Linked DNA regions of Homo sapiens: region 1 is linked to region 2. Evidence: fine-mapped expression QTL. A gene starts in region 2. The other region holds a variant in brackets. All regions are shown on one strand. Distances are between the middles of the regions.

What was found. PIP is the estimated chance that this variant, and not a neighbour inherited with it, causes the effect.
Region 1: its variant is fine-mapped to the expression of HRCT1 in lung (TOPMed, PIP above 0.99).

The regions. Positions count from the first base shown.
Region 1 is chr9:35,877,469-35,882,844 of GRCh38, forward strand. No RefSeq gene overlaps it. Among named protein-coding and RNA genes, the nearest start is that of OR13J1, 9.8 kb to the left of the region's middle. The variant T/C (reference allele first, on the strand shown) is at 2,114.
Region 2 is chr9:35,903,870-35,909,245 of GRCh38, forward strand. It overlaps HRCT1 (histidine rich carboxyl terminus 1), which reads left to right and starts at 2,333. Exons shown (of 1, transcript NM_001039792.2): 1 at 2,333-3,267. The coding sequence starts at 2,419. The coding sequence ends at 2,766. LOC124902149 (a long non-coding RNA gene) reads right to left here and starts at 1,801. Exons shown (of 3, transcript XR_007061471.1): 1 at 499-1,801. RefSeq lists an enhancer at 999-1,880.

The sequences.
Region 1 (5,376 bases), 26 kb before region 2:
TTGCTTTTGTTATTTTTTACTTCTTTATTCCTGACTTGGCTAGACTATTTAATTTAGTCTATTATCCCACAGCACGAAGCCTCTGTCTTTCCTCAGAGGCTGTATGTAGCCTTGGATATGTGCACATTCACACCCTGGGATAACAGTGGTTTTAGCAGAGCCATTTGACTGTTGCTTTTCCTGATCTATTTGTAAAAGTATCTACTTCTGCTGGTATCACAGCCAGTGTTAGGCTCCACAAATTGTCATCTGATTGCTTTATTGTTTTTGATCATGTGATGGGGAATACATTGTGCCACAGTCTGATCCAATTAAATTTGGGCAGGAGTATTTTTGAGGCCAGTCTTTGAGGTTTGTTTTGACCCCAGGAGGATTTTCCTTAGCTGTCTTTTTCCACGGTATTCTGCTGTTATTGGGTGAAGGGTTTTATAAATATCAATTAAGTTGGATGAAAGTATTGTCCAAGTCTCCTATATTCTTACTAATTTTCTGTCTACTTATTTTTCAACTACTGAGACAGGGATGTTGAAATCTTTGGCTGCAATTACAGATTTGTCTATTCCTCCTTTCAGTTCTATCAGGTCTTGCTTTATGTATTTTGAGGCTCTGTCATTAGATATATAAGCTTTTAGGACTGTTATGTTATCTTGATGAACTGACATCTTTGTCATTTTCAAATGACCCTCTTTATCCCTGTTAATGTTTTTGCTCTAATATCTACTTTGTCTGCTATTAATATAGAATTGGAGCTTTAATTTTTTTTTTTTTTTTTTTTGAGATGGAGCCTTGCTATGTCGCCAGGCTGGAGTGCAGTGGTGTGATCTCGGCTCACTGCAAGCTCTGCCTCCTGGGTTCACACCATTCTCCCGCCTCAGCCTCCTTTGAGTAGCTGGGATTACAGGCACGTGCCACCAGGCCCAGCTAATTTTTGTATTTTTGGTAAAGACGGGGTTTCACCATGTTGGCCAGGATGGTCTCAATCTCCTGACCTCGTGATCTGCCTGCCTCGGCCTCCCAAAGTGCTGGGATTACAGGCGTGAGCCACTGTGCCCGGCCGGATCTTTAAAAATTTAATCAGACAATCTCTGCCCTTTAATTTAGATGCTTAGACCAATTGCATTAAAAATGACCAGGGACATAGTTGGATTTAAATATTTCATCTGGCTGTTTGTTTTCTATTGTTCCATCTGTTATTTGTTCCTCTTTTAATCTACCTTTAATTAATGTAATACCACCTCACCTATAGTATATAAATGTCGCAACAATGCCCTTTCACTTCCCCTCATCTGGGTTTTGAGCTATTGTTGTTATATATTGTAATTCCACATCTGTTAAAATTCTATAATACCTTATTACTTTTGCTTCCAATAGTCAACTATGCCATATATTCCTTCCTTTAAAAAAATTATTAGCTTCCTATTGGCCACATCCAAGCTATGTTTTAAAAGGTTTAAAAATTAGAGTAAAAATATTTTATATTTATTCACATATTCACCATTTCTAGGGCTCTTTATTGCCTGGTATAGATAGGTATTTTCTTCTGATAACATTTTTCTTCCACCTGAAGGACTTCTTTTAACATTCTTATAGATCTGGACTGTTGGTAATAAAATCTTTCAAATTTTGTATGTCTGAAAATATTTTTATTTAACTTCAGTATTGAGAGGTATTTTGCTTAGTATAGAATTCTGACAGTTTAATTTTCCTTTTACCATTTTGAAGATATTGCGCTACTGTCTTCTGGCTTGCATTGTTTCTGACAATGACTGCTGTCATTCTTGTTTGTTCCTCTGTATATAACGTGTCTTTTTCTATGATTGCTTTTAAGATGTTCTCTTTACCGCTGATTAAAGCAATAGTATTATAATATGCCTTGGTGTAGCTGTCTTCATGTTCTTCTGCTTGGGCTTTGTTGAGATTCTTGGATCTATGATTTTGTAGCTGTCTTCTTGTTCTTCTGCTTGGGCTTTGTTGAGGTTTTTGGATCTATGATTTTGTAGGTTTTTTTAAGTGTAGAAAAATTTTGATCATTTTTTTTCTGTCCATTGCTTCTTTTCCTGAGATTCTAGTTGTACCTATATTAGGCTACTTGAAGTCCCAAAGCTCACTGATA[T/C]TTTATTTATTTATATTTTTGTGTATTTTATTTTGGTTAATGTATATTGCTATGGTATCAAGTTTACTAATATTTTCTGCTGTAGGTTCTAGTCTGCTATTAATTCCATCTAATATATTTGAAATTTGTTTTAAATTTTGAAATAATCTTAGATTGGCAGAAGAGTTCTAAAGATAGGATGTAGATTTCCTGAATAACTTTCAACCAACTTCTCCTAATGTGAACATCTTATATAGCCATGAAATGTTCATCAAAACTCAGAAATTAGCAGTGACACAACTAAACATAATTGGCACTATTAACTAAACATAATTGGCACTATTAATTAAACTACAGGCTTTATTCAAATTTTCCCAGTTTTCCCACAAATATCCTTTTTCTGTTCCTGGATCCAATCCAGGATATCATGTTGCATTCATCCATTTGATTTTTTTTTAATCTCAAAAATTGTATTTTTTTATTTTTAAAAGTTTTATTTGGGTCTTTAAAAATCTTCTGTGTCTTTCTTTAATATGTGAGGCTTGCTTTTAACAATATACCATGTCTTGTGTATATATATGTAAATGTGTATGTACACATATATACATATGTGTATACATATATACACATATGTATATGCACATATATAATATATGTATACATATATATACACACATATATACATATATATACACACACACACACACACACACATACACATATATATATATACATAGAGAGAGAGAGAGAGAGAGAGATTGAGAGAGAGAGAATGGAGTTTCACTCTTGGTGCCCAGGCTGGAGTGCAGTGGCGTGATCTCGACTCACTGCAACCTCCGGCTCCCAGGTTCAAGCGATTCTCCTCAGCCTCCCAAGTAACTGGAACCACAGGCATGCACCACCACACCGAGCTAATTTTTGTATTTTTAGTAGAGACGGGGTTTCACCATGCTGGTCAGGCTGGTCTCAAACTCCTGACCTCAGGTGATCCACCTGCCTCGGCCTCCCAAAGTGCTGGGATTACAGGTGTGGGTCACCGCGCCCGACCGTAGATATTTTTATATAATTGTTTCTTTGTAAGTTATATGTAATATTCTATTGTGTGAATATATTATAGCTTATTTGAGTATTTCCTGTTGTTAGACATTTAGGTTGTATCTCATGTTTTCTTTGGCCATGCAAACAATGCTGCAAATCATATCATTTTACATGACTCTTTGGCACATGTACAGATACTTCTCTAGGATAGATATTTTGACAGGAAGTTATTGGATTGAAGGTATGTTTATTTAAATTGTTGAAAGATGCCCTAAATTGCCCTCAGAAATGTTGTCTTAATTTAAATCTCCACCAAGAATATAACAGTACCCATTTCTCCATATCCTGACTGATACTGGGTGTTATCAGTCTTTTATTTTTTATTTTTAAGTTAAAATTAAATTAAATTAAACTTTTAAAGAGATGGAATTTTGCTTTGTTGCCCAGGCTGTAGCGCAGTGGTGCAATCATAGCTCACTGTAACCTTGAACTCTTGGGCGTGAGTGATCCGCATGTCTCAGCTTCCCGAGTAAGCAGGACTACAGGAGCATGCCAGCGCACCCTGATGATTATTTTAATTTTTTTTTAGAGATGGAGTCTTGTTATTTGCCTAGGCTGGTCTTGAATGCCTGATCTCAAGTGATCCTCCCCCTTCAGCCTCCCAAAGTTCAGGGATTACAGGCTTGAGCCACCTCACCTGGCCTCAGTCTTTTAAATTTTGTATTACAATGGGTGAAAAAGGATATCTTGCTGTTTTATTTTACATTTCCCTGATCACTAAAAATGTTAATAATAATTCTATTTGTCATTTTTTGCCATTAAAATTTTTTTCTGTTGATTATCTCTTCATATTTTATGCTCATTTTTCTAATTTTGAAAATAATGATTTCTAGAAATTCTTTATATAGTCTCTATAGTATTTCTTTGTGTATTATATATGTGGCAAACATTTTATGTCAGTTACCTTTTTTATTTGTGTATGATATCTTTTGTTACATAGAAGTTTAATTATTTGGGGTAGCAAATTTCTTTTTCGTTGTCTCTTGTGTAATATCCCCAAGGTTTTAAGTACATTCGCCTTTCTGTATTTTCTTCTAATGATTTAAAAGTTTTACTTTTCAATTTAACTTTTATTTTATCTGGAATTTACTTATTGAGTGAGTGAGGTAGGATAAGTAAACTTATTTACTTGCCACAATAAAATTTATTATGGAGGTCATTCTTTTCTCATTGATTTAAAAAATGCCACCTTTCTCATATACGAATTTCTCACAAATTTATTAGTCTCTTTCTGGACCTAGTGTTATGTTCTAAAGAAATTTTATTGTCTTTCTGTCCTCATGTCACACTGTTTTAATTACTATGGCTTTATAGTGATTTGTAGCTTTATGTTGATATCTGCTAGGCGAAATCCTCTCTTACCAGCCTTTTTCAATCATTTTTTGGCTATTCTTGCACATTTTCTTTTCCAGATAAATTTTGCAATCAGCTTGTCACATTTCACAAAAATTCTCCTGGGATTTTGCTTGTAATTTATTGGCTAATTTGGGATGGAATTGACATCCCTACAAAATCAAGTTTTCTCATCCAAGAACATTGTTTTTTGTCTTTCCATCAATTCGGGTCTTTACTTTGTCATAACCATATGGCTCCTCTCCTTTTAATATGTTAATAAAGTGATTTATATTAATGTGTTTTTTTTCCTAATGTTGAATTATCTTTGTATTTCTGGGATAAACCGTTCTTCTTCCTTATGTTTTTTATTCTTGTCATGCATGGATGCTGGATTGATTTCAGGTGAGCTGATCTGCTTCAGCTCCTGGGCTCCCCCTGGTGGCCATCAGGCCCTTCTCTGTGACCTTTGGGGATGGGGTTTGAAATAGCTGTGAAATCCTGGACTCCAGGGCTCAGGCAGCAGGATCACAGATCTAGGAATCTGGTAGACATAAAATCTGCGTGCCCGAGTTATGTAACCATCTGTTTTGCCTCCTTGGGTTCTGTTAGTTTCTCTTTGCTAGGAGACCCTGAGGAAAGAGATCATATCTGTGTTAAAAGAATCTACCCTCTCAGAATCCAACAGTCCATTCACTGACCTGTCCCTTTCTCTAAGCTTTATAATTACCTTTATGTCATTTTCAATGAAGGGAAACCCTCAAATATAGTTTCACTTTTACGAATCTGGATGGCTTTTCATATCAGTAAACTTATAAATCAGAAATTATGTCCCAAATTTGGTCCAGAAAGTA
Region 2 (5,376 bases):
GATCCACCCCTCTTAGCCTCCCAAAATGCTGTGATTACAGGCTACTGCACCTGGCTGTGTCACTTCTTAACATTTATGCCTAGTGTTCCATTATTGGAACACTAAGCATGTGGGAGTTATTTTTATCATACTGATCAAGGTCATTGCCAAGGTCTGATTGCAAAAATTCAAAAAATTGCAACCTTAGGCATAAATGGGTTAAGTCATGGAGGACTGTATTCTCAATGGCTGTCCCTCACTGCCCCCAGGAGTGCCCAAAGCATCTAAACAAATGTTCACTTTGGGATCCTACTACCCAGATGGAGAGTGAACCTGCACCTAAGGAAACAGATGTCGTGTGTATGTGTATGTGTGAGGGGGCACTCCCAACCCCTGCGCCCTCCAGGTTTATTCACATCTCCACCTCATCTTCCCGCTGTCTCTGTGGAAGGCCCTGCTGATCTCAGGCTGTCACTCTGGACGGCTCCCTCACTGCAGGGATGGTGCTCTGTTGAGTACCTGCTGTATAGATTAGCGCACGAGGCTGGGAGAACTTAGGCAAGTGTTTCCCTTCTCTGGCTTCAGTTTCTCCATCTGTCAGTGAAGGCTGAGTCTGGGTGATTCCAAGGGGCCGTTTGAGCTGACTGAAGTTCTTCAAGTTCATAGTTGTAAGGTCCTGCCCCGCCGCCAGCGGCTGGTGTGGGGTGGGAGTCTTCCTGGAGAAGTTCTGAGGACGAAAATCCCCTGTTTGCCTTCCTCCTCCTCCTCCTCACAACAGACTTCCCTCCTTAACTTCCCTAGGGAAGGCAGCCGGGCTCCCAGGGCCCCAGGAGTCTGCAGGAGGAGTTCTTACTCCAGCATCATTAAAAGTTCAAGTAGCTCCCCCAAGGGCCAAAGAAGTGCCAGGATTCATTAGACCTGCTGCCCCCTGAGCCCAGTTTGGTTGAAGGGAATGTTTAGCCTTTTCATCTGGTGAGGGTTTTCATTAAGGGTTTGAGGCCTCCCTAAGAGAACTCACCTCAGACTGAGGTCAGAGGGGGAAGGGTCCCTGGAGGTCACCTCTTGCTCCGGGAGTTCTGCAGAGGAGACAGGCTGGATCAGGGCAAGGGGTTTGCCCAACATCACAGGGTGGAGGTGCTGCCAGAACTCAGAGAACCAGCCTTGCGGTGTCTGCAGACATTCCTCCAGGCGGTAGGGAGATGAGCCTGGAGGGAGGGGCTGGGGACTCAGCCTGGAGGGACCCTGCAGAGCCAGACACAGAGCTGGGGCTTTGGGGAGCCCCACTGCATGTGAGGAAGAGCTTGGAGAACAGCCCAGCATGCCCACAGCAGAAAGGGTTGCCCAGAGAGAGAGTGAGCACCTGTTGCTGAGGTCTGTCAGCAGGATGGGACGGTGCCTCCCAGGAGGAACAGAGGGGATTTGGGCCTGGCGGGTGGGCTTGGAGGGACAGTCAGTACTGCTCAGATCCTGCCGCTCTGTAAATGCTCCACTAGGCAGGAATGGCACTCATCACTGCTGGGCAGGGAGGGTGTGACAGAGCAAGGAGCATGCCATTTATGGCCAGTTGAGACTGTTGAACTGGGAACCAGGAGGCTGGGCTGTGCCTGCCCTCTCTGAGCTCAGTGGCCTCCTTCTTGCCTCCCAGCAAGCTTGGGAGGACACCCAGACCCTCCTGCCTCCCAGAACAGGCCGGATGGAGGACCTCCCTGGATGGCAAAATCTGCCTGTGGTGCCTCCCTGAGCTTCTCAAGCTCATTGAGCTCGGGATGGCTCATCTGACAGAGCCTGACTCAGCCCCGGAGGGCTCTGCAGGCTGCAGGACAGGGAATCACAGACTCTCAGATGTCAGTGTCTCCTGAGCCATGGAGTCCATTGCAGTAATATCAGTTGCAAACATGACGGGAGCTGGTGTTGCTGCTTTACGCATCTCAACTCCTTTAGTCCTCGGAACACCCTACTGAGGAAGGAACCGTTATCAGCCATTTTACAGAAGAGGAAACAGGACAGAGAGGTTAAGTAACTTGTGCACAATCTCAGAGCAAGTGAGTGGCGTGGCTCCAAAGCCCGTGTTGTTCATCTCTGTTCTACACAGTCTCTACGAGAGGAGACTGAAGTGCGGAGAGGGAAGGTCACTGAGCCAGGCAGCAGGAGGGTTTCTTTCCTCTAGACTCAGGGCTCCTCCCTCAACCAGATCCAGCCTGACAGCTCCTCTGTCTCCACCTGGCCTCCCTGCCAGGCCTCCTCAGAGTTAACAGCGGCCTGGCCTCACCCTTGGCCAGCAGTTGCAAGTCCAAACAGGCTTCGCCCACATTCCCTGGCTGCTCTCCAGCCCGCAGCAGAGACAACAAAGTTCAGTGACTGAGAGGGCTGAGCGGAGGCTGCTGAAGGGGAGAAAGGAGTGAGGAGCTGCTGGGCAGAGAGGGACTGTCCGGCTCCCAGATGCTGGGCCTCCTGGGGAGCACAGCCCTCGTGGGATGGATCACAGGTGCTGCTGTGGCGGTCCTGCTGCTGCTGCTGCTGCTGGCCACCTGCCTTTTCCACGGACGGCAGGACTGTGACGTGGAGAGGAACCGTACAGCTGCAGGGGGAAACCGAGTCCGCCGGGCCCAGCCTTGGCCCTTCCGGCGGCGGGGCCACCTGGGAATCTTTCACCATCACCGTCATCCTGGCCACGTATCTCATGTGCCGAATGTGGGCCTCCACCACCACCACCACCCCCGCCACACCCCTCACCACCTCCACCACCACCACCACCCCCACCGCCACCATCCCCGCCACGCTCGCTGAGGCTGCTGTCGCCGGTGCCTGTGGACAGCAGCTGCCCCTGCCCTCCCATCTGTTCCCAGGACAAGTGGACCCCATGTTTCCATGTGGAAGGATGCATCTCTGGGGTGAACGAGGGGAACAATAGACTGGGGCTTGCTCCAGCTGCATTTGCATGGCATGCCCCAGTGTACTATGGCAGCAGAGAATGGAGGAACACTGGGTCTGCAGTGCTGAAGGGTTTGGGGAGTGGAGAGCAAGGGTGCTCTTTCGGGGCTGGACAGCCCGTCTTGTGACAGTGACTCCCAGTGAGCCCCAGAAATGACAAGCGTGTCTTGGCAGAGCCAGCACACAAGTGGATGTGAAGTGCCCGTCTTGACCTCCTCATCAGGCTGCTGCAGGCCTCTGGCGGGCAGGGCACTGGGAGAGGCCCTGAGAATGTCCTTTTGGTTTGGAGAAGGCAGTGTGAGGCTGCACAGTCAATTCATCGGTGCCTTAGTCCAAGAAAATAAAAACCACTAAGAAGCTTTTGTGAAGAGGCTCTTGATTGCAGCATAGTGGGAGGGAGGGAGCTGCCTGGCCTGTGTCCTCATTGCCCTGGGACCTCCCTCTCTGATGGGAAGCGTGTGGCTGGAGCAGGCGGCTTCTGTCTGGTTCTTAGGGGCTGGTTGTGGAGTGGGAAGAATTGGGTGGGCTCTGTCTGAGCTCTGAGGGAGGATTCAGGGTTTGCACAAAACCCTGCCCACAGCAGGTCCTGTGTGCACCAGCAGGGCTCTGGCCTTCCGCGGGACAGTCCTCGGGGAGAGGAAGGTTGGAGCCGCTGCGAGCCTGGCTCCCCAGGGCTCTGCCCCTGTACTTTTTTCAGCCCATGTCCAGGGCAGACTGAGCTCTGAAACTCGAGGAAGCCCCATCCACAGGCTGCCTTGAATCCAGTTTCCTTGGTAATTGGATCAGGGTTTCTTCTCCAAGCCTTGCGTTTTCAGCCATCCTGCCCCAGCTGGTGCCTGTGTGTGGTGGGAGGGCTGGGAGGCAGCGAGTGGAGTTCTTTAAAGTGGAGGCTGTGGTGCTGGGGTGCAGGGTGTTGGATGGCCTTGGGAGAATGCTGGGGTCTCACTTTCCTCTTCTCTGCAATGGGGTGGATAACAGAGATGCCCACGTGCCGAAGCCTGGAGGCTCGTTGGAATATGCTCTGTGAACAGCTAGTGGGATCCACAGCGAGGAAGGAAGCCTGGCTCTGAGGCCTTCAGCCTGTGCCTGTGAGCTGAGGTGGGAATTGGGGGAAGACAAGGACTGGGGGCCAGGAGAGGCAGTGGGGAGGGGCTGGAGAGCAGGCCAGAGACTCAGGGACCTGGTGACTCACTGGAATAGAATGTCCTCTTTCCTTTCTATTTCCCAGTGGATTCTCTGTGAGGGCTGCAGGAGGAGGGAGTGAGAGAGAGAGGGAGGCAAATTCACACTGATTTCTCCCACCTGAGGTTTCTGGGTTGGGAAAGTTGACCCTAGGCTGCCGTGCAGTGTCGATTTTCTCTGCAGTGTCCTTCAAATCCACCCCCTTCTCCATTCCCATGCCCTGCCTAGCCCAGCCCCCTCCATCCCCCTCCTGGATTCCTGCCAGCCTGCTCCCTGCAGCCCTGCCCCTTTCCCAGGCATCTCCAGGCTGATTTCACAGATGAATCAAAGATGGGGAGGAGGTTCCCCGAAAGCAGGAAACGGAAAAGGAAGCCTATGCAGGGCAGGAGAGAACCCGCTGAGCAATTGCCCTTTATTCCAGTTCAAAAATGCGGAACCACTCAGACAATCTGCAGGCGGCCTATGGCTGCGTGTACACAGGAAGAATAGGCGATGAGAAATCAAAGGAACAAATGTTAAAGCTTGAGGCATAGTCTCCTGGTGCCCTCTATCACCCCAGTTAAGGAGGTGATGTTGGTAACTCAACCTGAAACCACAGGCCCTGCAGATCAGCCCGTCGTCTCCTTCCTCCTGGTCATCCCAGTTAATACAAACAATCCAAGGAATTGGCTTCCTGTCATGGCCCACAGCCTGCTCCATGTGGAGGAGGAGCCCAGGGCCCAGATGGTCTCATCATCTCAGAAAAGGGACAGATTGAGAATATGACAGGCTATCGTTTGCTCTGAAAAGTTGCTCTCCCATTCTGTGCAAAGTGCCAGTTTCCTAATGCTGATACTAAAGAAAGTTCCCTTGGGCCTTGGAGAAACTGAAAAGGACCCAGGCTATGTGAACTTGGGCCAGCCCTCTGCCCTTTCTGGCACTTTGCACCCAGATCATTAAAACCGCAGAATCAGATGGTCGCTCTGTGGTCCCATGGTAACTGGAAAGTGCACTGAGCTAGGAGTGGAGGGAGGGCGGTCCCTCCTCGGCCATTGCTCGTGCCTGTTAACATGGCTAATTCAGAATGGGGGGCAGGTCATTTAACTTCTATGACCATAGGATCTTTTTCTATAAAATGGAGGCTATATCGCTATGCAGGGTTGCTGGGGAGGTTATATGAGATCATGTCTGGTGAGGTCCCATGCCTGGAGTTATTGTTCTCACTACTCTGTTTCCCAGAATATGGACAAAGTGGGGCTAATAGCCCAGTCTCCTTTCTGGAAGTGGTGGGGGTCTCAGGAGGTG